Regions from separate parts of the Homo sapiens genome. Here regions 2, 3, 4, 5, 6 and 7 are each linked to region 1. The links come from fine-mapping of genetic effects on gene expression. A gene starts in region 1. Each other region holds a variant in brackets. All regions are shown on one strand. Distances are from middle to middle.

Region 1 (4,065 bases):
AGAGCGTGTGTGAGGCCAAGGCCCCCACCCTGCACCCACCACTTGCCCAGAGAGCTGAGGCCTCCTGGGTGCTGAGAGGCTGTGGGCTCTTCAAAAGAAGAGATCAGAAGGAGGGGAGCCTGCAGCCTGGGGGTCACACCTGCTTCCCCCTGGCTGAGGAGCCCCGGGTGCGGGAAGCGGGTCCTGGGGGCGGGGGGGTGCGCCGGCTCGCGAGGTGCCTGTCAAGGGGCAGAAGGGGCTGCCCAAATAAGCCACACTGTTGTAAGGGTTGTTTTGAGCTGAAACAGCCATCCACAAGGATAAGAACGCTGCTTTCTTCTGGCTCTGGAGAGCGTCTTCCCCGTGGGGTGTTACCTCCTCTTTCAGGAAGGAAAGGCCATTCCCGGCCACACAGACCGTGCTGGAGTGCGTGTGCCTTTCTCCAGCTCATCTGCTGATTTTAATTATCAGGCCCGACCAAAAAACCCCAAGAGGTAAAATGTTGCCTCCCCACCCACCGTGGTCTGGAGGCTGGAGGAGACAGCGTGCCGGGGATTTTCTGTTCGGCTCAGTACAGGCTGAACTCTGTCCCGGCAAATCCTCATGCTGGAGCTGTGACCCTGTGACCCTCAGGACCTCAGGGTGTGGCTGCACTTGGGCGTGGAGCTGTAGAGATTGTCAAGGTAAAGCGAGGCCCTGACCCAGTGTGACCAGCGTCCTCATGAGAAGGGGAGACGAGGACGCAGCACACAGGACCACCACGTGAGGACACGGAATACGTCATCTTCGCGCCAAGGAGAGAGGCCTCGGGTAACCAGCGCTGCGAGACACCTTGCCCCCAGCACCGGAGGGAATGAGCTCCCGCTGTTTAAGCCGCCTGCCTGGGAGTGCCAGCAAACCCACGCTGACCTGTGCAGTTCACACCGTCGGCCCGGAAAGCCCTCGCCGGAGCCCCGGCCACATCAGGGTTTCGTCCTGGCGCCGTGTGGGTGGGGAGAGGCGCTGGGCCGGCAGCATTTGCACCCCACCACTGCCTGCAGGGGCTGCCTTTGTCTTCCTGAGTTGATCTGTGTCCCATTTGCCCTGATAGGGAGAGAAAGATTCAAATACCCTGTCACAGAGGGAGACCGGCGTCTCATCTGCAGGCCCTGCTAGGGCTGGTGCCAGTTCCCCGCCCTCCCTGGTGGAGAGACCAGAGATGTGAAAACGCAGAACCCGCCCCAGCCCCGGCCTGCGGGAAAGAAGAAGGGAAGACGCAGAACCCGCCCCAGCCCCGGCCTGCGGGAAAGAAGAAGGGAAGACGCAGAACCCGCCCCAACCCCGGCCTGCGGGAAAGAAGAAGGGAAGACGCAGAACCCGCCCCAGCCCCGGCCTGCGGGAAAGAAGAAGGGAAGACGCAGAACCCGCCCCAACCCCGGCCTGCGGGAAAGAAGAAGGGAAGACGCAGAACCCGCCCCAGCCCCGGCCTGCGGGAAAGAAGAAGGGAAGACGCAGAACCCGCCCCAGCCCCGGCCTGCAGGAAAGCCACGCTGTGCTGCCAGGGATCGGCTGATCTTTGGCCTCTGACCTTACAGTGATGTCACAGCAGACCCATGGCAACGCACTCCCAGCACCTCCTGACTACTCCCTGCGGGACGGCTGGGTGTGAGGGTGGCAGCCTTGTGCTCAAGCCGAGGCTGGGCTGGAGGATGGAGAAGGACACGGGGACCACACACAGGAGGCACCGGCCCGGCCTCAGGGCCCTGCCCTCAGGAGTGGCCCTTGGGCACCTCAAGGCGGCCAGTGAGGCCTCTGAACTTCAGCGAAGCAGGAGTCTGGGAGGCCTGCAGCCCGAGGGGGACCCTCCCAGCCGCCCTAGGAAGCCTCACAAGGAGCTGGGTAGGGGCTGTGGGGCCGCGGGGAGCGGGTGGACGGCGCGGCTGTCCCACCAGGCACTGAACCCAAAGTACCTGCGTCAGAGCCCAGCCCAGTTAGAAAGTTCTAGGAAGTTCCCAAGGTTAGGGATGCGCCGAGACAGCCCCAGGAGGTCCAACGACGTGTGTCCAAGGCGGGGCACGGCCTGACGTCATACATTGCAGGGGGGCGTGGGGCATCAATCAGCACCTGTGAGGGGGTACGTCGGTTCTGTCCGGAAAGGGACAGCCTGAAGCAGGAGGGGCTTCCAGGTCGTAGGTAGAGGAGACACAGGGCTGCATTCTTTGGGTCTCGATCAGCCTTTCACTGAACACACAATTTACACGTGAGGGGACTAGAGGGAGAGTCACTTGTATCCTCGTCCGGCTCCGTGACTGCGGTTTTTCATGAGCAGCCCAGAGGGAGCTGTCGGACACACTTGTCTCAGGTGAGCAGAGGGAGGACCGTGATCTCTGTCCCTGTCCTGCGCCTGTTGACGGTCAGCTGTCCACGTGCATTCCCAGCGTGAAACTCCACAAAACTGCTTAGGGCAGAGATCTTAAGGCTCACAAGGAATTTCCTCGTGGGTGAATGATGAGGGAGGCCTGTGGCCGTTTATCTCTGCAGCTCTTGTTTAGGAAGAGGATGGGAGGCAGGTTTGTCTGACACATTCCCAGCCTTACTCCTCCCCTTAGCTCAGTGATTCAGGGCCCAAGATTCATTTTCCTTCCACCGGCAGCAGGGACCGGGCCGGGCCTCCTGCCTCCCGCTGCCCTGTGCTCGGAACGCTAAGGGTGGAAGTGGGGAGCACTCCAGGTCCACACCCGTAACCCACCCAGGGCTGCTGGGAAGGCCTTGCGCTGCTGGGGCGGAGCTGTGGGGGCTCCAGCCGGGCACAGCCAAGGGCGGGAGGGGTGAGAGGAGGGCAGGCCTGGGACCCTCATGGGCCTCCGAAGCCAGCCGATGCCTGAAGGGAGGATCATAGCCAGGCGCCCCGTTTGCAAGAAGGCCCTGGTGAGGGCCTGGGTCCCTGCCAGGAGCTCTGGGCCTCACCCACCAGCAAGGAACCTGCGTAGCTGGTGTTTGACACGGTTGGCTTCTAAACCGCGAAACGTGTAGGCTGCCCCTGTGTCGGTCCACACTCGCCACTCTGAGATGTTTCCAGGTGTGCCGAACGGACGGTGGTGTGGGCCTGGGGATGGTGCTGCAGTCACCTCCTCACACCTTGAATACTGGCCCAGAGCACAGGGCTGAGGGGCTGACACGGAGCTGCGAGCTGGCGCTCCCCTCCCCTCCCGCGGCCTCGGCAGCTCCGCCTCCCCTTCGCAAAGGTGTCCACGGGGCCGTGGAAGTGAGACAGCCCGGTAGGACTCGGGGTTTGCTTGCTCAAGCCCTGGGGACAATTTTAAGAGGTAATGATGTAAAAATATGTGTTCTTCTCTGAGTTTAAAAATCCAAATATGTGCTATTTGGGGGGCGTGAGTAGTTAGGAGGCTGCACCCTACCTCCCTCCCCACGGGGTTCCCTCAAGACGTGCAAAGTTCTCAAAAGAATAAGTTACGCCAAGGCTGCTTAGCGGGAATTTAAGTTGGGGCGGGGAGTGGATCTCCAATAATGCCGCCCGATGCCACCACAGTGCGGACTTAGAGGCCGGGGTCGGATGGAGGGAGGGATTGAGCCCCATTGTGGCTGACATTTCCCTCAACACCTGCTGGATTTGCCCAAAACTGCACGATGGGAGGTGCCGCAGCAGGGAGGCCGGGCTTCTGTGTGGCCGCTTGTCCTGTCTGGCAAAGATGTCCACCCTGCACAGCCTCCCCCAGGCACCAGCACCCTCAGGGTTCGAGACCACGGCCCAGGAGCGCATCCTCCCTGGAGCTTTGTGGCTGCCCCCAGACAACTGAGATTCTGCCGGAGAAGAGCAGGAGGCATTTCCAGCCCTGTGACCCGAGGAGAAGGGCCGGGCCTTGCTGACCACTGGTAGAGTCCGACGTGGCCTTGGTTTCTGCAGGGACTCAGCTCCTCACCCCTCGCAGACTTGGTGGGCTCCATGACATGCCCAGTGCCACGTGCACCCACAGGTGCCCGGATGTGTGAGACGCCGCGTCCACTTCACAGGGAGGCCTCCGGGATGCGGGAGACGTGGGGTGGCCGACTTCACGGGGGCACCAGTGGGGTGTGTCTGGGCCTGGG
Region 2 (4,065 bases), 34 kb after region 1:
TGCGAGGCTGGAACTGTGTCTCCATCTGACAGGCAGAGAAACAGCAGCAGCCCAGCCTGGGAAACGATGTCAACAGCTCCTGTTTCCAGCACGTTCCTGGGTCTCAGACGCCCAGCCTCACACACAGAGTCCCAGAGACCAGGGTATCGAATGCCCAGCCTCACACATGGAGTCCCAGAGGAGATCAGGGTCTCGAACGCTCAGCCTCACACATGGAGTCCCAGAGACCAGGATCTCGAACGCTCAGCCTCACACATGGAGTCCCAGAGACCAGGGTCTCGAACGCTCAGCCTCACACATGGAGTCCCAGAGACCAGGGTCTCGAACGCTCAGCCTCACACACGGAGTCCCAGAGGAGACCAGGATCTCGAACGCTCAGCCTCACACATGGAGTCCCAGAGACCAGGGTCTCGAACGCTCAGCCTCACACATGGAGTCCCAGAGACCAGGGTCTCGAACGCTCAGCCTCACACACGGAGTCCCAGAGGAGACCAGGATCTCGAACGCTCAGCCTCACACATGGAGTCCCAGAGACCAGGGTCTCGAACGCTCAGCCTCACACACGGAGTCCCAGAGGAGACCAGGATCTCGAACGCTCAGCCTCACACATGGAGTCCCAGAGACCAGGGTCTCGAACGCTCAGCCTCACACATGGAGTCCCAGAGACCAGGGTCTCGAACGCTCAGCCTCACACACGGAGTCCCAGAGGAGACCAGGATCTCGAACGCTCAGCCTCACACATGGAGTCCCAGAGACCAGGGTCTCGAACGCTCAGCCTCACACATGGAGTCCCAGAGACCAGGGTCTCGAACGCTCAGCCTCACACACGGAGTCCCAGAGGAGACCAGGATCTCGAACGCTCAGCCTCACACATGGAGTCCCAGAGACCAGGGTCTCGAACGCTCAGCCTCACACATGGAGTCCCAGAGACCAGGGTCTCGAACGCTCAGCCTCACACACGGAGTCCCAGAGGAGACCAGGATCTCGAACGCTCAGCCTCACACATGGAGTCCCAGAGACCAGGGTCTCGAACGCTCAGCCTCACACACGGAGTCCCAGAGGAGACCAGGATCTCGAACGCTCAGCCTCACACATGGAGTCCCAGAGACCAGGGTCTCGAACGCTCAGCCTCACACATGGAGTCCCAGAGACCAGGGTCTCGAACGCTCAGCCTCACACATGGAGTCCCAGAGACCAGGGTCTCGAATGCCCAGCCTCACACATGGAGTCCTAGAGGAGACCAGGGTCCCAGACGCCCATCCTCACGCAGAGCCCCATAGGAAACCAGCACCTGCGTCTTCTGTCTGGGTGGCACAGGGAAAGTGCTTCCCCTGGGAATACTCGGCTGGCATCCACCCCGCCAGTGTGTGCTGCAGGCTGGCTCATCTGGGGGTGGGGGGCTTGGCGGCAGCACCGCAGGGTCTAGGGGAGCCCACCTGGCTCTGGCCTCCTGCTCTTCGCTTCCGGGGAAACGGCCCAGGCCCCTGCTGCACACTCTTCCTTCCCCTCTTCAGTAGTAAGAGGAGCCAAATGCGGCTGACGGTGCATCTGAGGCCGAGGCGCAGCCCCCGCCCCTGGGGTGGACTTTGGCCGCATGGGCAGGGCCAGGCAGGCAGGTAGCCTCTTGGGGCCTCTGAGGTGGCCCGAATGCCTCCCCTGATCACGGCTGCCACCCGGGCATCCTGGTCCCCCTGCGTCAGAGCCCACACACATGACAGACAGGAGGCTCTGGCTCAGATGAGGCCAGCGGCACTTCCTTTCATCCTGCCTGGCACCCGGTTTCTTGATGACCCAGGCCAGTGTTTTTCACGCTGAATCGTGTTTGACTTAGAAGCACATGGGATGATCCCTTTGGCCTTCCCAGCACCTCCTGAGAAGTATTGTCATCAGACCTGTGAGCATGAGATGGCGCTGGGCCCAGAGAGGTCAGTGCCCTGGCCCAGGATACACAGCGCACAGGAGGTCACTGGGAGCCTGAGTGACAACATCTCCAGGGCTGGACAGCCTCCCTGTCAGGGGTGAGAAACGGGTCTGTGCCCATTTCACGGCTAAGAACCTGGAGCAGGTCCCCCTTCAGCCCAAAGCCCAGGAGGAGGCGGCTGCTTATTGCAAAAGGTGTGAACCAGGCTGAGTGGTGCCGCCCTCCCCATCCACGTGGTCCCCATCTTTCCCATCCACGTGGTCTCTGTCCTCCCCATCAACGTGGTCCCCGTTCCCCCCGTCCAGGTGGCCCCCATCTTCCCAGTTGGGTGATCCCCGTGTTCCCCGTTGGGTGGTCTGCGTCCTCCCCATCGGGTGGTCTCTGTCCTCCCCATCGGGTGGTCTGCATCCTCCCCATCGGGTGGTCTCTGTCCTCCCCATCGGGTGGTCCCCTTCTGGCTCTGGGTTGCCTGCATCTTGCAGCTCCACACTCCGGAACATGTGGCTTCTGGCATCACCGGGGCGGGGGGAAGGGGCCAGCTGCAGCCCTTGGCTGGAACGTGTCAGGCAGCCAAGCCTATGTGCAAAGGGCCGGGACCTGAAGGAGTGAGAAG[C/AAGC]CGGACGCTGTTGTCCCTGACCCTGAGCTGAGCAAGTTCCACTGAGGCCACAGAGATGAGTCCGACCTGAATTCTGCCCTCCCGGAGTTTACAACAGGGTGAAAGGCACCTGGCGGGTCTGGAATGCCAGCTTGGAAGGGATCGTGGGAGGAGCTGGCTGAGGAAACGTGGGCCTGGGGTGGGGGTGGCTGGGTTCCCAGGGAGGCCGCAGGTGCTGTGGTGTGCACAGCAGGGCCTGAGCCTCCTGGGGCCAGGAGGCTTCCTGGGCGTGAGGCCCAAGCTGAGTTTTCCATAGGGATTGAGAGTGAGTGAAGGCTGTTTGGAAGGACGTGCTGGGCAGTGGGAAGTTTGAGCAAAACCTGGAGACAGGAAAGAGCTGTGTGTTGAGAGAAGCTACAGCTGGTGCAGTGTTTCTGGAATGGAAAGTTCACGGCGGACGTGTGGAAGGGAGCGACTCCCAGTGGTGGGCACAGCAAGGGCCCCTCCCAAAGACGTCGGAGGCTGAACCCCCAGGACGCTTGAACAGGGCAACCTTGCAGGGGGAACTAGGTTAGGAATCCCAAGTCGGGAGATAGCCTTGGATTATTCGGTGGGTGCTCCTGGAGTTTAGGGAGGATGGAGAGGCTGCTGGACCCAGCGTAAGGTCTGGGCTCCTTAGAGGCAGGTGGGCGGGTCAAAGAGAGAGCAATTTGAAGATGCTGGGTTTGAAGATGGGCCGTGGGCCAAGGCTGCTGCCGTCTCTGGAGGCTGAGAAAAGAAAGCAGTGGCTTCTCCACCAGGCTCCTGCCAGCCCTGCCTTCAGCACCCTGAGGCCCTTTTCACACTTTCCCCTCCAGGACTGTAAGATAATACATTTGAGCTGTTGGAAGCCACTAGGTTTGTGGTAATCTGTTAAAGCAGCAGATAGGAACCTCATAGACTCACTATTGAGAAAAGAAAAGCACTTTTATCTGAGGAGCAAGTCCTTTTAATTATTGGGTCCAGAGAGGCGTTCAGTTGAGGCCGCAACCACATCCCACTCCCCCTTTGAGCTGCATGTTCATCTTGTGAAAGGAAAATCATTCTCGGGACCCCAGATCGCTGAGCCTAAGAGAAAAGTCCAGCTGGGAACTGTGCCAGGCAAACCTGCCTCCCATTCTATTCCTGAGTAAGGGAACTACAAAGATTTTAAAAAGCTACACGCCTGCCTCACGATTTGCCCACAAAGAAATTCCTTGTGGACAAAGCACAGACAGAACTCAAAGTCACCCCACTGCTCCCGTGAGACAAACGCACACAGCTGATCACTTCCTCTGCCCTCATTTCACTGAGCCAGACTCAGGCATGAGTGACCATTCCTGTAAATTGTGCATTCCGTAAAAGGCTAATCAGAAACTCAGGAGTGCAACCGTTTGTCTCTTATCTACCTACGACCTGGAAGCCTCCTCCCTGCTTCCATCTGTCCCGCCTTTCCGGACCGAACCAGCGTTCATCCGATGTATGTTGATGTCTCATGTCTCCCTAAAATATGTAAAACCAAACTCTGCGCCGA
Region 3 (4,065 bases), 100 kb before region 1:
TTAACAGTTGGAAACAAAACCAGTGCCTTGGAGGTGATGGCATCAGAAGCCTGAGGCAGGGAAATGGGCTTGCATTTTGTCCCCCCACTTTTTTTTTTATTAAATGCATCATAGCAAAAGTAGATTAAAAAGAAAGAGTCTCAGCCCCAGATGACAGTGAGCAAGGAGAAGGAGGTAAAGACGGGGCCATCGGGCGGGGAGGGAGGAACCTGGTGTGTTTTGGGGCCAGGGGACTGGGCATCATCGGGCAGGGAGGGAGGAACCCGGTGCCTTGGTGCCAGTGCGGGGGAACTGGGCATCGTTGGGCAGGGAGGGAGGGAGGGATGAATCCGGTGCGTTGGTGCCAGTGTGGGGGGACTGGGCATTGTCGGGCAGGGAGGAAGGATGAATCCGGTGCATTGGTGCCAGTGCGGTGGGACTGGGCATCGTCGGGCAGGGAGGGAGGGATGAATCCGGTGCGTTGGTGCCAGTGTGGGGGGACTGGGCATCATTGAGTGGGGAGGGAGGAAGGGATGAATCCGGTGTGTTGGTGCCAGTGTGGGGGGACTGGGCATCGTCAGGCAGGGACGGAGGGATGAATTGGGTGCGTTGGTGCCAGTGCGGTAGGACTGGGCATCGTCAGGCAGGGATGGAGGAACCTGGTGCGTTGGTGCCAGTGCGGTGGGACTGGGCATCATCAGGCAGGGAGGGATGAATCTGGTGTGTTGGCGCCAGCGCAGGGGGATCCGGCCTTTTCATGTCGTACGGCGTCTGTCTTACAGGGACTCCACAGAAAGCTTGTGTGTTTCCGTCCTGCAGTGTCCGCCTTCGGAAGACCCAGCTGTTACTGCTGTGATTTGAGGCCCTGTGGGAACAAATCTCAGTTCCGTATTATCCACAAACACCATCTCCCACAGGACTTTCAAAAGCTTTTTTCTCTCTCCTTTTAAGAAACACAGGAACTTACAGCTAAATATCTACACTCATTTGTTGCAAAAAACAAAGAAATCCCAGAAAACAAAACAAAAACAAAAAACTCCCAAAGACAAAAACAAAAAACCCAGTAAAATCCCAAGGGAAATATGGTCAGCGTCAGGTCACACTGTAAAGGTGTCAGAAGGAAAGTCAGCAAAGTCAAGCTGTGTTTGAGGGTAAGGACTTCTATCTGCTGCAGAAGCCGTCAGTTCCAAAACAGGGCCGGGAGGCTGGAGGGGCCCCTGTCCGACTTGCTGGGTGTGCTGCGGCTGCCCTCAAATTCAGGGGCAGCCGCGGCCACCAGGAAGGCTGCGTCTGCTCCGGGAACCTCAACTGCCATCCCCCAGGCTCCCTTCCCTCTCTGGAGAAGCTCGCCGGCCATGTTCTCCCCTTCGTGCCTGTGAACTCATCACACACCCTGCCTGCGTGTGCCGCGTGTGTGTGCGTGTGCTGCCTGCGTGTGCTGCGTGTGTGTGCGGTGCTGCCTGCGTGCGTGTGCTGCGTGTGTGCGCTGCGTGTGTGCGTGTGCTGCGTGTGGGATCTTCACATCGGTGGGAGCCTTCGGAAAGCCTGTCTT[C/T]TGACATGGGATGACCGACCTGAGGCCTGGCCTGGAGCCAGGTGCCTCGTAGCAGCCTAGCTGTGTTCTCCCATGCAGCGGGTGAAGAAGGCGCATCCCGGGAGAGTCGCCGTGTTGAGGTGTTCTGAGGGTCCAGTGCCTATCAGGAAATACTCATTTTTTCCCACCAACCGATTATCATTGATGCTTCCTTAATGATTCCCAAAATAAAAATTTCCAGAACCTTTTGAATTAGAGGCGTCTCAGAGCCGGAGGAGCCTTCGAGAGCTGCTGTGTCTCTTGCTTTTGCAGTTCAGGACTTTGAGGCCCAGAGAGGTAGACTGTGTGTTGGGGGCACTGGCGGGAAACGGCCGCAAGCAGTGAGACCCTGAGAGCTGCTCCGTGTGGGCAGCAGCGGGTGCTGCTGGGAACGCCTGCCGGCGCCTCCACACGCAGAGATACGCGGCGCCGACACGGGAGGCTTCGTCCTGCCGGCGCCTCCACACCCAGAGATACGCGGCGCCGACACGGGAGGCTTCGTCCTGCCGGCGCCTCCACACGCAGAGATACGCGGCGCGGACACGGGAGGCTTCGTCCTGCCGGCGCCTCCACACGTAGAGATACGCGGCGCCGACACGGGAGGCTTCGTCCTGCCGGCGCCTCCACACGCAGAGATACGCGGCGCGGACACGGGAGGCTTCGTCCTGCCGGCGCCTCCACACCCAGAGATACGCGGCGCCGACACGGGCGGCTTCGTCCTGCCGGCGCCTCCACACGCAGAGATACGCGGTGCGGACACGGGAGGCTTCGTCCTGCCGGCGCCTCCACACGCAGAGATACGCGGTGCGGACACGGGAGGCTTCGTCCTGCCGGCGCCTCCACACGCAGAGATACGCGGCGCGGACACGGGAGGCTTCGTCCTGCCGGCGCCTCCACACCCAGAGATACGCGGCGCCGACACGGGAGGCTTCGTCCTGCCGGTGCCTCCACACGCAGAGATACGCGGCGCGGACACGGGAGGCGTTGTCCAGACCCTGGGGCTTCTGCTCCTTCTCACAGTGCCTCAGGTTAATATTGTGGATGAAAAGTCTTTAAAAAGCTTCAAACTGAGTTTATCTCTGCCCTTTGGAGTTGCTGGCATGCCAGTTTGCAAACTGGCATCTTTGAAATGAGCCGACTGCCCCATGTGAGCCATGACGTGTGCGCTTGCTGAGTTGACGCGAAACATTCAGCGCGGAGTGGCGGAAGTGGGGTTCTGAGAAACTTCTACTCTGCTCCCGTTTTTGATTTTGTTTGTTTCAACAAGAATAAGGTGATGTGGCCCTGAGTGGCGCCAGCAGGAGCCTTGGTGTGGTCTCAGCGTGGTGCCTGTGCCTGCATCTGTCCTCTCATCCTGCGTCGTGGAGACGCCACTGCCAGGCGTCTTTAGAGCCAAATGACGGAGGCAGAAAAGGCCCTGGGGAGGCGCGAGTGTGTTTGAGGCGTTTTTTTTACAGAATGGACTTAAACTGGGCATCCGCTGTCTGGATTGACAGCTGTCACTCATCCCTTCCTGCTCACTCCCTATTCTCCAGTAAACTGGGCCGTTAGGCTTGCCGCTGGGGCATGCTCCGAGCTTCCAGCAGAGAAGTCGCAGCTGGGGTTCAGTTATGACCTCCAGACTGACCCCTGGCAAACAAGGAGTCCGGGATCACGGGCGTTTTCTGCAGGGCCAGCCAGGAACTGGCCCCACTTCCTTCAAGCACGTCCAGGTGGCGTCTCTGTGGGCTTGAAGGAGGGAGAGGTGGACCTAGCTTAGGTCCCTCTGGGACGCTTCTCTTTACTGGCAATTCGAACAGCTGGAGTTTACAGTTAACTCACGTCCACAAGAAAGAGCTCTTTCCTTTAATTCTGGCTCCAACTTTGACCTAATATAAAATAAAATTCAAAATAAAAAGGGACTCAGTGGATAAATGAATAAGCAAGACGAGGTCCCTTTGCATCATGGAAGTTATTCAACCTTAAAATAGAAGGGAATCCAGTCAGCGGCCACAGCAGGGGCCACCCTGGAGGACATTTGCTGAGTAGAGTGAGCCGGGCTGAAAGGACACGTCCTGTGGATCCCGCCGACGTGAGGCCCCAGAGTAGTCAGATCCACAGAGACAGAAAGTGGGGTGAGGGCCACTGGGAGACAGCAGGAGGGGGATGGGAGTGAGTGTTGAATGGGGACCGAGTCTCCGTTTGGGAAGACGAGAGTGTTCCAGAGAGGACGGTGGTGATGGTTGCACAACTCGGTGAACGTGGTTAATGCCACAGAACTGTGCACGCGAGCAGGTCAGAGATGGAAAATTGTATGTTAAAAATTAAAATAAAGGGACTAATGCAGGTAAACAAGACACAGCAATCCTGAGTCCCAGGCTGGCAGGTCCCTGCTTGCGGGACTTGCATTAGAGGGTGGCGTGCATGTCCCTCGCCTTTCGGCAGTACACATGGGGTGCACATCCACATTTTGACTTGTGGTGGCAAAAAAACCAAGGCTTTATAGAGAGCTAGTGAATGCACACAAGCAAAGGCTG
Region 4 (4,065 bases), 57 kb before region 1:
GTCTGTGTTGGTAGATCTGTTTGGTGAGGGTCTCGGTTTTTGAAAAACAATTTAGGGACATATGTTAAGATGCTATTTTTAACTTGTATAGGGAATAAATATCTCCTGACTAATTTTTTGGCTATTATTTTATTATTTATTTTGCTTGTTAGGTGATTTACCACTCAAGGCTGGCTAGGTGTCTGATATATTTTTGAAGGAACTCGAAGGTTTTTTAATCATTTAGGTGGGTGGGGCCTAAGCGAGGTCCCTGCTCCATCCGAGGTTCTGCACCAGGCCACGTGCTGCAGGGCTGCTGTCGGTTCTGCCGTCCACGTCTTAGCGCCAGGCATTCTGCCCGTCTGTCCCACCCTCCCACAGGCAGGGACAAGCCCTGGGGAACACGCCTTGGCCTTCCCGGAGCCTCAGGAGCTAGAGCTAAGGGCCGGGCCAGGCAGAGCCCCTGAAGCATGGATGAGTCTGTGTTTATCCCATCCATTCATTGCCATTCAGGCTGGAGCAAATACAGGGACAGCGGCACACACAGGTAGGCACACATAGCCGCACACACACACAGGTGGACACAGTCACACATACACACAGGCGGTGCACACACAGGCAGACATGCACACACAGTCGCATGTACAGACAGGCGGACAAACACACATACACAGGTGGACACACAGCCACGCGCACAGACAGGCAGACACAGTCGCGCACACACACAGAAGGACATGCACACAGCCACACACTACAGACAGGTAGACACACACAGAGTTGCATGCACATACAGGCAGATGCACACACAGCTGCTTGCACACAGACAGACATGCACACATAGTCGCACACACACACAGAAGGACACACACAGCCAAACACACAGACAGGCAGATGCACATACAGACAGGCAGACACCGACAGGCAGACACACACAGTTTCATGCAAACACAGGCAGACACACAGCCGTGTGCACACAGACGGACACGCACACACAATCGCACGCCCACACAGACACATAGCCACATGCACAGACAGGCAGACACACACAGCTGCATGCACACACAGGCGAACATGCACACAGGTGGACACATACAAGCAGATACACACAATCACATGCACACACAGGTAGACACACAGTCGCATGCACACAGGTGGACACAGCCACACACAGATGGACACACAGTTGCACGCACACAGGCAGACACACAGCCGCACACACAGGCGGACACACAGCTACACAGGCAGACACGCACACAGCAGCACAGATGGACACACATAGTCGCATGCATGCATAGGCAGACACACATAGACACACACAGTTGCACGCACACAGGTAGACACACAGCCGCACACACAGGAGGACACACAGCTGCACACACACAGCCAGATGCACAGACACAGGCGGACACACATACAGGTGGACATGCACACACAGCAGCATGCTCACATACACAGCTGCACACACAAACCGCACGCACACAGGCAGACACACAGTTGTACGCACAGACAGGTGGACACACACCCACAGCCGTGCACACAGACAGACAGGTGGATGGACACAGCAGCACACACAGACAGACTGATCTAGAGAGACAGGTGGACCCGCAGGGCAGCCTTGCTGTCTGCTCTGCTAGAAGCCCCCGTGAGCCTTGCTGTCTGTGTGAGTCTTGCCCTCTGTGTGAGTCTTGCTCTCTGTGTGAGTCTTGCCCTCTGTGTGAGTCTTGCCCTCTGTGTGAGCCTTGCCCTCTGTGTGAGCCTTGCCCTCTGTGTGAGCCTTGCCCTCTGTGTGAGTCTTGCTCTCTGCGTGAGTCTTGCC[TCCTGTGTGAGTCTTGCCC/C]TCTGTGTGAGCCTTGCCCTCTGTGTGAGCTCTCCGAGGTTCCTGCGGGCCTCCATCCGGCCTCGCCCGAGGGGAGGTAAAGGCAGTGGCCCCTGCTTGGGAGACAGCTGTGCTTCCCCTCTGGTTTGTCCCGACGGACACACGAGCAGCCTGCAGCATCAGAGCCTTTGGGGGTCTGCTTCACTGAATGACCGTCTCCTACACGGTTGGACCCCTCACTTCTGAGGCAGCGACCTGCTCTCAGCAGAGCCAGGAGCCTGGGCAGCCACATGGGGCTGAGCAGTCAGGCAAGCAGCTCTCCTGGAGAAAGGCCACAGCTGGGACCCTGCGTCCCGGGGGTGGAGTGGAGGGGCTGGACGTGCCCATTGGCCAGGGCAGGGCGGGGCCGCCTGCTCCCTTTGCCCTCTAGGCTTTCCCTGGGCGCGCGGCCCTAGTGGCCTGTGGGAGCAGCGCCACAGCCTCTGACACCCCATCCTTGTGCCTTGCAGGGCAAAGTGCACCTGGAGCTGCGGCTGAGCGAGGTCATCACAGACACTGGGGTCGTCTGCCACAAGCTCGCCACACGGTAAGACACGTCCTCACTAGAGACCGAGCGCACAGCGAGTGGCATGTCTGGCTCCCGAGGAGCACACAGGGGTTTTCACACCAACGCACAAGAATTTCCAGAGCCGGTGGCTGCCCAGGATGACACTGTTTAGAGGTCCTGGCCCACCAGGATGATGCTGTTTTAGGGGTCCTGGCCCACCAGGATGACGCCATTTTAGAGGTCCTGGCCCCCAGGATGACGCCGTTTTAGAGGTCCTGGCCCACCAGGATGATGCTGTTTTAGAGGTCCTGGCCCCCAGGATGACGCCGTTTTAGAGGTCCTGGCCCCCAGGATGACGCCGTTTTAGAGGTCCTGGCCCCCAGGATGACGCCGTTTTAGAGGTCCTGGCCCCCAGGATGATGCCGTTTTAGAGGTCCTGGCCCCCAGGATGACGTCGTTTTAGAGGTCCTGGCCCCAGGATGATGCCGTTTTAGAGGTCCTGGCCCCAGGATGATGCCGTTTTAGAGGTCCTGGCCCCCAGGATGATGCCGTTTTAGAGGTCCTGGCCCCAGGATGATGCCGTTTTAGAGGTCCTGGCCCCAGGATGATGCCGTTTTAGAGGTCCTGGCCCCCAGGATGACGCCGTTTTAGAGGTCCTGGCCCACCAGGATGAAGCTGTTTTAGAGGTCCTGGCCCCCAGGATGACGTCGTTTTAGAGGTCCTGGCCCCAGGATGATGCCGTTTTAGAGGTCCTGGCCCCCAGGATGATGCCGTTTTAGAGGTCCTGGCCCCAGGATGATGCCGTTTTAGAGGTCCTGGCCTCCAGGATGATGCCGTTTTAGAGGTCCTGGCCCCAGGATGATGCCGTTTTAGAGGTCCTGGCCCCAGGATGATGCCGTTTTAGAGGTCCTGGCCCCAGGATGATGCCGTTTTAGAGGTCCTGGCCCCAGGATGACACTGTTTTAGAGGTCCTGGCCCCAGGATGATGCCGTTTTAGAGGTCCTGGCCCCCAGGATGATGCCGTTTTAGAGGTCCTGGCCCCAGGATGACGCCGTTTTAGAGGTCCTGGCCCCAGGATGACACTGTTTTAGAGGTCCTGGCCCCAGGATGATGCCGTTTTAGAGGTCCTGGCCCCAGGATGATGCCGTTTTAGAGGTCCTGGCCCCAGGATGACACTGTTTTAGAGGTCCTGGCCCCAGGATGATGCTGTTTTAGAGGTCCTGGCCCCCAGGATGATGCCGTTTTAGAGGTTGCCCCAGGATGATGCTGTTTTAGAAGTTCTGGCCCCCTTCCAGGATGACGCTGTTTTAGAGGTTCTGGGCCCCCAGGATGACGCTGTTTTAGAGGTCCTGGCTCCCAGATGACACTGTTTTAGGGGTCCTGGCTCCCAGATGACGCTGTTTTAGGGGTCCTGGCCCCCAGGATGATGCTGTTTTAGAGGTCTTAGCTCCCAGATGATGCTGTTTTAGGGGCCCTGGCCCCCAGGATGACACTGTTTTAGGGGTCCTGGCCCCCAGGATGACGCTGTTTTAGAGATCCTGGCTCCCAGATGACACTGTTTTAGGGGTCCTGGCTCCCAGATGATGCTGTTTTAGGGGTCCTGGCCCCCAGGATGACACTGTTTTAGGGGTCCTGCCCCCCGCCCCCCCGATGACGCTGCTTTAGATGTGCTGTCACACACTGCTGGCGTCCACGCTAAAGCACATGCTCACCTTAGAGGTGTTGT
Region 5 (4,065 bases), 150 kb before region 1:
ACACCTCCCACCTCGCGCTCTTGCCCCCGCTCTCGCCGTGTGAGACACCTGCTCCCCCTTCACCTTCTGCCATGACTGGAAGCTTCCCGAGGCCTCCCCAGAAGCAGATGCCTCCATACTTCCTGTACGGCTTGCAGCACCGTGACCAATAAACCTCGTTTATTTTGAATTACCCAGTCTCAGGTGTTTCTTTATAGCAATGCAAGAACAGCCCAATGAGTAATCGCCAACTGAAACGGTGATTATGTCATGTGCATCCACATGTGGGCTGCTCTGTGGCTTTCAAGGAACATATTAAGCCCAGGCCAAACCACATGACTCGCAGGAAGTTCCACGGCATAAGATTCAAAAGAAGCAAAATGAGAGCGCCCAACACCACCCCCTAGAAGAATGATAAACACAGATCAGATGAGTGTGCGCAGATCAGGGATAAGACCCACACAGCCTGCTAATTGGATTACCTGTGGGATGGCAGGAGTGCTGTGGTAGGAAGAGAGACAGGAATACAAGGCCTTCCGTAGCAGCAAGTATATGTCTATTATGCATCAATGTGCAACTATGTATACGGTGGGTGAGTGAGTGAAGAACAAAGGCGGAGCTTAGAAATCATCCCTTCACAGATTGCAAGAACAGTGTCGGCTGTGGAGGACGCCAAGGCCGAGAAAGAAAATAACTTGCCTTCATTCAAGACAATGTGCTGTGTGGGAAATGCATGTGGACAGGTGAAGGAGCGGCTCCGTCAGGCCGCAGCGGGCGTCCAGCAGTGACAGGCGGAGTGAGTTGTGGCTGGCCCCTGAGAGGCCCCTGACAGGTTTTGGGGCTCCAGCCTTTGTGTCTGGGAGGCTCTGGCACAGGTGAAGGGGAACTGAGGGTTACGTCACCTGTGACAGATGGTTCAGGGTCTCTCTGGGTGTGACGCAGAGTCCAAAGTGAACAGTTACAAACGTTCAAGCTTTGCTGTAGATATGAGTTTCAGAGTCACCGAGGTGCCCGGGAACGCCCTCGTCGGGCCTGGATCCCCGGAAGTGAGTTTCCCCATGGGTTATTGGTCAAACGGCATCAGAGTGTCTGGGAGATTTTGTTTTTCTGTGAGTATTTTCTCAAAAATAGTAGTTCCTTGTTCTATGAGTGTCTGAAAATATTAGGTGTGTTTCTGCAGACAGGGCTGGATTCCTGGGGCTGTAGCTCTAGCCACCCTGAAATTTGGCATTCTTAGTTTTCGTTTTCAAATAAGCTTGAATCCCACATTTGGAACAATCACCCAAATTTAAGTCTCAGTTTTGTTCCTTCTGGGGACAGTCAGTGCCCTGCTGGTATCACAACACAGCCAGTAACGGCTGCAGCGCTGACCTGCGTGTCCTGGGTCCCGAGAGACACCGTGCCGGGCTTCTGGGGGCTGGGCCGGGGGGCTGGGTCAGGAGACAGGAGCCGCACTGGGGACCGAAACCGGTGCCTTGACCTGGAATTGATCGAGGAACGACTCCTGCACCTGTTCTTTCCTCTTTACATTGTTTCTTTTATGTTATCCGAATAATTTCCAACCTGTAAAGAATCATCTGTCTTGGCCCTGACTGCCCATAGGATAAAATTCCAGAGGTTGGTAAGAGGTCTGAGTCTTTCCTAGACACCGTGGGGATCCTTTTTCTGACCACCGACCAGACAGATGTCCACTTAGGACCTGCATGGGGGCCGTGGCTCCCAGCCCCGCATGGCCCACCCCGTGGGTGCCTCCCTCGCCCCAGGATGGGCCAGAGTCCTCAGCCCCTTGCTGAGAGCCACCCTCCCTGCCTGGTGCGCATGGCGTGCCCAGGGTAGGACGGAGGATTCTCTGGGATGCCTGACAAAGCCTAAGGGTGATTGTTGTTGTGTCTTCCTGGAGCTTGGTTTTTGGACGTCATCGTCTCCAAGCTGCAGCCCGGGTCTGAACTGGGCGCGATAGACCCAGGCTGGCTGTTCGTGTGGCGTTGGAGCCAGTTCCCATTTCTGC[G/A]TTAGGTTTCATTCCTGGCCTTTTCCCTGCTTTGAGGGGCTGCACAGAGTACCTGAGGGCCCTTGCGTGCACCCCTAAATCTTCTCTTTAGCTGTGTTCCTTCTGAAGGAAAAGGTTTCACTCTTCTTTTCAGCTCTGGAGATTTCTTGTTTTGGTTCCAAACCCTCGAGGTGCTGGAGCAGCTAGTTTGCCTTGATCTTGTCACTTCTGTGTTTTCTCTTCCCCAGAGCAGCCATTGCTCTGGGAGCCTGAGGACCAGCCTCAGCCCATGGCCCCTGCTGGGGCGGCCACCTCGGCGTCCGGTGGTGACTGTGCAGGACACATGTTTCCGGCCCCCCTCCTCTGAGGCTCCAGGAGCAAAGTGCTGTCCCCAAAGCCATGCCGGCAGCAGGAGCGTCTCCATGCCGGGCACGCACCGAAGGTGTGTCCAGGGTGTAGGGACCCAGGAAGGTTGTCTTGTGGTGGACTCTGATGACCACAGCCCAGGCGCTTTTGTGGCTCGTGGAATCGCTTCCTCAGAAAGGAGGCTGGGTGCTGCCGCGGCCTTTTCCTTCCTAGAGCCCTTTCTCATGCAGCGTTGGCTGGGCCTGCTCAGCACTGTGGCAGCTGTCATGGCAGCCAGTGGTCCTTGCTTTGGGCAGCAGTGAGATGCACAGGCCTGGAGTCAGGGCTGGGGCCGACCTGCCGGAGACCCCCTTCCTAGCTGCGTCCCTCACTCGGGGCCGACCGGCCGGAGACCCCCTTCCTAGCTGCGTCCCCCTGTGTGGAGGCCCCACTGGTTCTCCTGAATGCTGTGCCCTCTGCTTCCATGTCAGAACATTTCCCTCCAATGGGCAGGGGCGAACCCACCTGCACCCCCGGGCCCAGGTGCTCCCAGATGCAGAGCAAGCCCACCCAGCGGGGGAAGGCACGGCTCGGGGGCAGGAAGGAGGTGGTGGAGCTGGGGGTGGTTCGGCCCCAAGCACCCTGAGCCTCTGGTTGCCTACTTCATTCTGGCCCAGGCTGCATGGGGGTTTCCAAGGCTGGGGTCAGACTGATGGACAGGGCCATTAGCAGAGATTCAGGAAGAGGAACCGGTTCTGGGAAAACCATCTGCATGCAGAGCCCAGGGGACTGGCCATGCCGGACTCTCCTCCGAGGTCCGGGTGGGATGCTCCAACAGGGCTGGTTTTCCCATGGGCTTTGGGATGAGGGCTTTTCTGGGGAATTCCAGATCCCCCCCAGTCTGTAGGTGCCAAGCTCAGCCTTCTCAGGAAGCCTTGCTGGCCGGGGGTGGGGCTGACCGCGGAGGGGCCCTGAAGGCTGGAGCAGCCTGGGGAAGCTCTGCCGCCGTGGCCGGCTGCGCAGCCTGGAAGGGACGCCTGGCCTCCCAGATCCTCTCCCTCCCCGACAACTAATGTCCAAGACTGACTGCTGAGATTCTGGGATTTGCGGTGGGCCCCACGGACTGGAATCTTCATTAGTTTAGGGGCGGTGGCTGGAGGTAGGAGCCTCTGGGCCCTGTGTGCCCCTCAGCCAGTCACCTGCAGTGACAGTGGGAGCAGGCTCCTGCACTCGGCCCACAAACCTGCTAGCCCGGCTGCATGGTGCGAGGCAGGAGAGAGATTCCGAGAAGCTCCTTCCTGAGCGTGTGGCGGGGGGCCTGTGTATGCTCACAGCTGTAAACAACTAGTATCTCATTCACTGTACAGGGCTAGCGCAATGGGCCATAAACTCACACGGCCATGGTGCCGCACTCAGGGACTGGTCTGGCCGCCCGCGTCCTCAGGGCTACAGAGGAGTGAAGCGTTCAAAGTCTTTCTCTGGGGAAGCCGAAGGTCAAAGGTCGAGCTGTGCCTGAGAGACAGAGGTTCAGGCTGAGGGAGGAGTCCGCATCCTTATGTTCCTCGGAGGTCTCCTCTTGTGACATGCTTGCACACATGCACATGTATGCACACCCATGACCCTGGGACCGTTTGGGGCAGGGTTGCACGGCTTGATGTGCAGTGTTGGGTGGAGGTAAGGGAGGCTCCGGTGGGCTTCTGTTGGCTTTTCCTTTAGCCGAGATCCGTGGCAGAAGACACGGGCCAATCTGTGCT
Region 6 (4,065 bases), 160 kb before region 1:
TTCACAACTCCTAAGTATAATGAAAGCAGCCGCGATCGTTGTCACAGTCAAGGTGCCAGGGATTTGTGGGCTGAGGGGCATTCATCAGCACCCACGGCTTCTGCGGGCCTGGGGGCGGGGGCGTGAGCGTCTCCCTCTGCTCTCCTGCCCTGCCCTGCACAACCTGGTGAATTTCCTGTCCCACCCGCTGCCCCACCCCTCCCTGAAGCAGGGAGGTTGGCAACTGAGCTTGTGAGGCTCAAGGGTACCTAGGATGGGCCACTCGGAGGGGAGGCAGCTCTCCTCGGCCATCACAGCCAGAAAGTGGGCTTTGAGTGTTCCGTGCGGTGCTGCCACCGTGTCTACACCCACCTCCACCGTGTCTACACCCACCACCGTGTCTACACCCACCTCCACCGTGTCTACACTCACCGCCACCGTGTCTACACCCACCGCCACCGTGTCTACACCCACCACCGTGTCTACACCCACCTCCACCGTGTCTACACCCACCACCCTGTCTACACCCACCTCCACCATGTCTACACCCACCGCCGTGTCTACACCCACCGCCACTGTGTCTACACCCACCACCGTGTCTACACCCACCTCCACCGTGTCTACACCCACCATCGTGTCTACACCCACCACCGTGTCTACACCCACCGCCACCGTGTCTACACCCACCACCGTGTCTACACCCACCTCCACCGTGTCTACACCCACCTCCACCGTGTCTACACCCACCACCCTGTCTACACCCACCTCCACCATGTCTACACCCACCGCCGTGTCTACACCCACCACCGTGTCTACACCCACCTCTGCCGTGTCTACACTCACCTCCGCCGTGTCTACACCCACCACCATGTCTAAAACCACCTCCACTGTGTCTACACCCACCGCCACCGTGTCTACACCCACCACCACCGTGTCTACACCCACCACCATGTCTACACCCACCTCCACCGTGTCTACACCCACCGCCGTGTCTACACCCACCTCCACCGTGTCTACACCCACCTCCGCCATGTCTACACCCACCACCACCGTGTCTACACCCAACTCCACCTTGTCTACACCCACCACCCTGTCTACATCCACCTCCACCGTGTCTACACCCACCACCACCGTGTCTACACCCACCACCGTGTCTACACCCACCACCACCGTGTCTACACCCACCACCACCGTGTCTACACCCAACTCCACCTTGTCTACACCCACCACCCTGTCTACATCCACCTCCACCGTGTCTACACCCACCACCACCGTGTCTACACCCACCACCGTGTCTACACCCACCGCCACCGTGTCTACACCCACCGCCACCGTGTCTACACCCACCACCGTGTCTACACCCACCTCCACCGTGTCTAAACCCACCTCCATGTCTACACCCACCTCCACCGTGTCTACACCCACCGCCGTGTCTAAACCCACCTCCACCGTGTCTACACCCACCACCACTGTGTCTACACCCACCACCGTGTCTACACCCACCTCCGCCGTGTCTACACCCACCACCGCTGTGTCTACACCCACCACCGTGTCTACACCCACCTCCGCCGTGTCTACACCCACCTCCGCCGTGTCTACACCCACCACCACCGTGTCTACACCCACCACCGCCGTGTCTACACCCACCACCGTGTCTAAACCCACCACCGTGTCTACACCCACCTCCACCGCGTCTACACCCACCGCCACCGTGTCTACACCCACCGCCGTGTCTACACCCACCTCCACCGTGTCTACACCCACCACCACTGTGTCTACACCCACCACCGTGTCTAAACCCACCACCGTGTCTACACCCACCTCCACCGCGTCTACACCCACCGCCACCGTGTCTACACCCACCACCGTGTCTACACCCACCTCCACCGTGTCTACACCCACCACCGTGTCTACACCCACCACCGTGTCTAAACCCACCTCCACCGTGTCTACACCCACCGCCACCGTGTCTACACCCACCACCGTGTCTACACCCACCTCCACCGTGTCTACACCCACCACCGTGTCTACACCCACCACCGTGTCTAAACCCACCTCCACCGTGTCTACACCCACCACCACCGTGTCTACACCCACCACCGTGTCTACACCCACCTCCACCGTGTCTACACCCACCGCCGTGTCTACACCCACCACCGTGTCTACACCCACCTCCACCGTGTCTACACCCACCTCCACCATGTCTACACCCACCACCGTGTCTACACCCACTTCCACCGTGTCTACACCCACCTCCACCGTGTCTACACCCACCGCCACCGTGTCTACACCCACTGCTGTCTGCTTC[A/G]TGACTCGGGGGTCTAGGCTGCTTCTTTCCTCTCTCTCTGCATTTCAAGAAGATGAGAGCGAGACCATGATGCTCCGTGGTAAGGCCCACCTGAGCCTCCGACTGTAGTTGATAAACCCAGCACAGCATTGCGTCTCCTGTCCATCAACAACACAGACCACCAGGCCTCGGCATCCACAGGAATCTTGGAGTGGACCTGTCTGCTTCTCTCAGTTGTGTGGCTCAACTAATGTTTGAGAAAGACTCTTCGGTGGCTATTTATTCATCTCTCTAGATTCTCCAAATGTGTTCTTTCGCAGCTCATCAGGTCACTAGAAAGCTACTTTCTTTGACTTCTAAGTGCCTACATAAATTTTATGCGAGAATTATGATTTAATGTTATATTTTTACTACATTCATTCAACAAACATTCATTGAGCATTTACCATGTTCTAGGCCCTGTAGTGAGTGTCATTTGAGATTAAAAACATCCTCCCCTAACTTGTCCAATATTCCTTTTGAAAAGAATTCCCTAAAAAATTTCTTGTATTGCCTTGTGGGCTAAAGTACTGTCTTTCCTGAAAGTCTGACATGCTTCCTTTTATCAGATAATGTGACTTGTGTAAGATTCATATTTCCATATTTCCCTTTTCACCTTGGCTATCCGGAAGCTCAGTGTGTAGCTTTACGTTCAGCTGTTCTCACCTTACATGTGTCAACAAATCCACTAAAAAAATTTCTTTTAAAAGGAAAGAGACAGGCCGGGCGCGGTGGCTCACGCCTGTAACCCCAGTACTTTGGGAGGCTGAGGCGGGCGGATCACCTGAAGTCAGGAGTTCGAGACCATCCTCAACATGGAGAAACCCTGTCTCTACTAAAAATACAAAATTAGCCAGGCATAGTGGTGCATGCCTGTAATCCCAGCTACTCGGGAGGCTGAGGCAGGAGAATTGCTTGAACCTGGGATGCGGAGGTTGTGGTGAGCGCCGAGATTGCGCCATTGCACTCCAGCCTGGGCAACAAGAGCGAAACTCCATCTCAAAAAAAAAAAAAAAAAGGGGAAAGAGACATTATTCCAGCAAGCAGTTTGCAAACTGGGAGATGCTGCCTTTGGAACAAAACAAAGGTGCATTCCAGAGAAGAAACATGCGATTGTCTTCCACAAGGGAATTCCTGCCCAGGATCTCATTCTGGCCTTTATGCAGATAAGGGAGGCAGACTTGCTTCATTCTGTTTGGTAGAGCCTGGTAGCAGTCTATTGGTTTGGTCCAGAGGGCAAATTGGGATTTTCTGGCCTTGGTTGATTCCAGCAGCATGAACAGACAGCTGTGAAATTTCCAGCACTTCCGGGAACGCAGAGCTGGCGTGTGACCTCTAGTGAGCAAAAGGTCGCGTGCCTCCATTTTGAATTCAGGCCCAGTGAGCCCCTTGGGATGCACCTGGCAGGATGGGCTCTTTCAGGTTCAGATACCTGATTCCACCGTTCTTCCTTCAGTTCTTACTTTGAACCCTCCAAAAATTATTCCGTTGTGTACTGGTCATTTATGTGGCTTCAAATCCTTTGAAAGTAGATTGTTCAGACATGATCTAATAATGCTGTTTTGGAAATGAATGAATGTCCACTTGTCAATGGGTTGATATGTGAACAGAAGAGTATATCCAAAGAGAGCAAAGTGTAACACCAAGGTCATTGAAAGAAGAAATTATAGAGATTTTCTATTGGGTCATCATCTGATCCTTTCTTCTCTCAGTATTTTATTTCCCAGCTCATATTATCACAGCTCTAAGAGACAACTTTC
Region 7 (4,065 bases), 21 kb before region 1:
CTGGAAGGCTCTGCGCAGACTCCAGGGTGCCACAGGCCTTCGAGGGTCTTCCTGAGGCCCTGCCCCGGGGGAGCGGGAGGTCAGGGTGAAGGGGGACTCCCCAGGCCGTGGCCATCCTGCTTCTCTAGGAGGAGGCTGGGAGCAAGCCCCTCCCTGAAAGCTTCGTCTGGCCCAGGACACCCACCTTGATTCCACATGACGCAGCAGCCCGTTGTCTTCCCGGCCCCCCATCAGCCGGGTCCCCATCAGCCGGGCCCCCCATCAGCCGGGCCCCCCATCAGCCGGGCCCCCCCATCAGCCGGGCCCCCCCATCAGCCGGGTCCCCCATCAGCCGGGCCTCCCCATCAGCCGGGCCTCCCCATCAGCCGGGTCCCCCATCAGCCGGGCCCCCCATTAGCCGGGCCCCCCCATTAGCCGGGCCCCCCATCAGCCGGGTCCCCCATCAGCCGGGCCTCCCCATCAGCCGGGCCTCCCCATCAGCCGGGCCCCCCGTCAGCCGGGCCCCCCGTCAGCCGGGCCCCCCGTCAGCCGGACCCCCATCAGCCGGACCCCCCGTCAGCCGGGCCCCCCGTCAGCCGGGCCCCCGTCAGCCGGGCCCCCGTCAGCCGGGCCCCCCATCAGCTGGGTCCTCCGTCAGCCAGCCCCCCATCAGCCGGGCCCCCATCAGCTGGGTCCTCCGTCAGCTGGGCCCCCCGTCAGCTGGGCCCCCTGTCAGGCCCCCCATCAGCAGGGCCCCCCATCAGCCGGGCCTCTGGCAGTTGCACAGAGGCTTGGGTCATATCTGCCGGTCCTAAGGAGGAGGCCTGGGTGCCTGGCGGTCCCCCTGGTTATGCTCCGTGAGATGCACCTCGCTGTTGTTGTGGCCACGTGATGCTTTCGCATAAGGGCCCTGCAGGGGATGAGCTGTGCTCCATGCTGGGCCACCGTTTAATCCTCCCACAGCCTCAGAGGTGGGACCTTAGATCCTGCTTCGTGGACACAGAGGCTGAAGCTCAGGAAGGGGGCCTGGCTGCTGCTCAGGCATGCGTGGCCACCGCCCCAGAATCCCCCAGGAGAGGCCAGCGCTCTCCCATGTCCTCGCATCCCAGGACAGCGGGAAGCATTGCAGCCTGACGAGGAGAGAAAACCTGGCCTGTCCCCACCCGCAGCCGACCGTGCAGGGAACACAGTCCCAGGAGGCTTCCTTCCAGGCCATTTATCTCCATGAGAACACGTCTGCCGAGTTTGCTCACTGCCTTGGCAGATCTGTGGGTCCCAAGAGGCTCCAGCCGCTGAGGCCGGACAGCTCGGGAGCCTCCCCTATCCCGCACACCCACAGCCAGCCTCAGTTCTCCCAGCTCGGGGATGCTTTTTTAGTTTTATGTCTTTGAGATGGGATCTCGTTCTGTCACCCGGGCTGGAGTACAGTGGTGCAATCTCAGCTCACTGCAGCCTCGACCTCCTAGGCTCAAGCCATCCTCCCACCTCAGCCTCCCAGGTACCTGGGACTACAGGTGTGCTCCACCATTCCAGGCTAATTGTTTTAAGGTTTTTTGTAGAAACGGGGTTTCACCACGTTGCCCAGACTGGTCTCAAACTTCTGGGCTCAAGCAGTCCTCCCACTTCACTCTCCCAAGTAGCTGGGATTACAGGCTGATGCCACCAGCCCAGCTCATTAAATTTTGGTTTTTTGTAGAGACGGGGTCTCACTATGTTGCCAGGTCTCACTGTGAGGGTCTCTCCATGTTGCCCAGGGTGGTGTTGCTCAAACTCCTGGGCTCAAGCGATCCTTCTTGCCTCGGCCTCCCAGAGTGCTGGGATTACCCACATGAACTCCCTGACTGGCCAGGGATGTGTTTTAATGTTGGTCACTTCATCTTCTTTCTTCTTTTTTTTATGATAAATGCATTTCATTATTTATTTAGATGTTTAAGCTCTCACTGCAAAGTTTTTACAAGCTGTTGAAGACTGACAAATTATTTCTCACACAGA[A/G]CTATAACCACCCATCCCCAGACAGCATAAATATATGGTTGAACATGAATAAGTGACACAATTTTATCAATTACCTAATAAAACAAATGACCAAGTATCCAAATACTGAGCTACTCAGCTCAAAAGGCATATACAGTATTGACATCTGATCAGTTCATTAGCAGAAACCCACTTCTTTTTTTACAAGAGAAGTTGGGAAGAAAAGGGAAAAACTGTCATACTTCAAACAAAAATAAGTTGGAAACAATTTCTAATCAGTATGGAAAAAATTACAGACGTTTCAGAAATTTTATGATTTAAGAATTGTTTTAGCTATAATAAGCATTTCTGCCTTTTAAAAAGTATTTACTAAATTAAAGAGCATATTTCACACGTTCTGCACAAGGCAGCATTTTGCTAAAAATAACAGCCCCGCGCGTTCCTATCAGGCCCTCCCTGTTGGTTGCACCTGCGTGCAAATGTGAAATTAACCGTGAGGCCACTTTGTCTGAAGCCATCAAAGACGTGCTTCTGTACAATGTAGATTTTCTTTTCTTTTCTTTTTTTTTTTTTTTTTTTTTTTTTAGGCAGAGTCTCGCTCTGTTGCCCAGGCTGAAGTGCAGTGGTGTGATTTCGGCTCACTGCAACCTCCACCTTCCAGGTTCAAGCGATTCTCCTGCCTCAGCCTCCCAGGCAGCTGGGATTATAGGTGTGCACCACCACACCTGGCTAATTTTTGTATTTTTAATAGAGACAGGGTCTCACCATGTTGGCCAGGATGGTCTTGAACTCCTGACTTCAGATGATCCACCTGCCTCGGCCTCCCAAAAGTGTGGGGACTACAGGTGTGAGCCACCACACCCGGCTATGGAGGTTTTTCATAATAACACAAAGTAAGATTTATAAAAAGACATGAGGCCGGGCTCAGTGGCTCACGCCTGTAATCCTAGCACTTTGGGAGGTCGAGGTGGGTGGATCACCTGAGCTCAGGAGTTCAAGACCAGCCTGGCCAACATGGTGAAACCCCATCTCTACTAAAAATACAAAAATTAGCCAGGCGTGGTGGTGTGTGCCTATAATCCCAGCTACTCAGGAGGCTGAGGCAAGAGAATCGCTTAAACCCAGAAAGCGTAGGTTTCAGTGAGCTGAGATCGTGCCACCGCGCTCCAGCCTGACGTGTGCTGGTGTGAACATAGGAGAAGCAGACATAGAATGAGCAGGGAAACAAGCACACAGCCTCCTTCTGTGTTTGAAATGACTGAAGGAATAAACCACATGAGGTCTGGAGTGTTCATAGTTCCTGGGAATTGAGTTCTGTATGATACTAAAAATGTACAAGTATTACATATTACACTGGGGATTTTAGCACCTAGTCTTCCTAAATTTCTTATGTATTGATAAGATTCTGGAGTAGGAATAGATTTAAACAAGACATAACTCAGTACTGCGTGATTTCAGGAAAGGTCAGTTAGTACAAATGATAAGCACATTTTAAATACTAAACAGCAAGGATCTTTTGCCACGTGTCCAAATAGGCCAATGGTAACTGAAGCAGAGGTTGCTAGTTAGTTCCGGTTTGCAGCCTGGTGACACTGCTGTCCGTGCTGCTGTGGACGCTGTCAGCCTTGCTCAGCAAGCCAACACACCGGCTGTGCACAGACGGACAGCAAATCGATCCTGTCGAATTTCACTTCCAACACAATCGTTGTCTTTCTTCAGTGACATTTTAAAAATGAATGTCATTATTAAAAGCATCGTTTAAATAAGTGTTTTTATCTTTCTGTTCTTGCTGTGTCTGGACAGCGGCCTCCCAGCCAACATCCAGCTGGACATTGATGGGGACCGTGAGACGGAGCGTATCTACTCCCTCTTCAACTTGTACATGAGCAAGCTGGAGAAGATGCAGGGTGAGTCTGCCCGGCACACAGATCTGTGCAGCGAGGGGATGGCTGGCGAGGCCCCGGCCTCAGGAGCATGCTGTGGGGTGAAAACCTGTGGTCTGAGCCTCTGGTGTAGTGTGGGCTACATGTAGTTGTCTTTGTAGCACGGATGGATGCGAAAAGCTTTTTGCAGGGTAGGCAGCTATCTGGGGGACAATTACCTGTATAATAGGTT

Which allele goes with the higher level. Alleles are on the strand shown, and positions count from the first base shown. SD is a standard deviation of normalised expression in the study named. Not every link is listed here.
In carriers of allele A in region 7, the expression in monocytes after Pam3CSK4 of the gene that starts at base 1,589 in region 1 tends to be lower than with G alone (large effect, 1.4 SD a copy in Quach 2016).

What was found. PIP is the estimated chance that this variant, and not a neighbour inherited with it, causes the effect.
Region 2: its variant is fine-mapped to the expression of C13orf46 in whole blood (TOPMed, PIP above 0.99).
Region 3: its variant is the best candidate, but not a certain one, in a credible set for the expression of C13orf46 in whole blood (INTERVAL, PIP 0.71).
Region 4: its variant is fine-mapped to the expression of C13orf46 in whole blood (INTERVAL, PIP 0.97).
Region 5: its variant is fine-mapped to the expression of C13orf46 in whole blood (INTERVAL, PIP 0.91).
Region 6: its variant is fine-mapped to the expression of C13orf46 in whole blood (TOPMed, PIP above 0.99).
Region 7: its variant is fine-mapped to the expression of C13orf46 in monocytes after Pam3CSK4 (Quach 2016, PIP 0.95).

The regions. Positions count from the first base shown.
Region 1 is chr13:113,971,600-113,975,664 of GRCh38, reverse strand. It overlaps C13orf46 (chromosome 13 open reading frame 46), which reads left to right and starts at 1,589. Exons shown (of 7, transcript NM_001365455.2): 1 at 1,589-1,857. The coding sequence starts at 1,668.
Region 2 is chr13:113,937,629-113,941,693 of GRCh38, reverse strand. It overlaps a transcript of C13orf46 not described here. Among named protein-coding and RNA genes, the nearest start is that of SWINGN, 11 kb to the right of the region's middle. The variant C/AAGC (reference allele first, on the strand shown) is at 2,535.
Region 3 is chr13:114,073,912-114,077,976 of GRCh38, reverse strand. All of the region lies in intron 1 of RASA3 (RAS p21 protein activator 3), which reads left to right. Among named protein-coding and RNA genes, the nearest start is that of RASA3-IT1, 34 kb to the left of the region's middle. RefSeq lists an enhancer at 3,687-4,065. The variant C/T (reference allele first, on the strand shown) is at 1,532.
Region 4 is chr13:114,028,124-114,032,188 of GRCh38, reverse strand. RASA3 (RAS p21 protein activator 3) reads left to right here. Exons shown (of 24, transcript NM_007368.4): 5 at 2,302-2,378. Among named protein-coding and RNA genes, the nearest start is that of C13orf46, 56 kb to the right of the region's middle. RefSeq lists an enhancer at 57-998. The variant TCCTGTGTGAGTCTTGCCC/C (reference allele first, on the strand shown) is at 1,796.
Region 5 is chr13:114,121,394-114,125,458 of GRCh38, reverse strand. The region is part of intron 1 of RASA3 (RAS p21 protein activator 3); the gene reads left to right. LOC107987192 (a long non-coding RNA gene) reads left to right here. Exons shown (of 2, transcript XR_001750050.2): 2 at 1-172. Among named protein-coding and RNA genes, the nearest start is that of RASA3, 9.2 kb to the left of the region's middle. The variant G/A (reference allele first, on the strand shown) is at 1,988.
Region 6 is chr13:114,136,365-114,140,429 of GRCh38, reverse strand. No RefSeq gene overlaps it. Among named protein-coding and RNA genes, the nearest start is that of RASA3, 5.8 kb to the right of the region's middle. The variant A/G (reference allele first, on the strand shown) is at 2,288.
Region 7 is chr13:113,992,277-113,996,341 of GRCh38, reverse strand. RASA3 (RAS p21 protein activator 3) reads left to right here. Exons shown (of 24, transcript NM_007368.4): 22 at 3,754-3,857. Among named protein-coding and RNA genes, the nearest start is that of C13orf46, 20 kb to the right of the region's middle. The variant A/G (reference allele first, on the strand shown) is at 1,972.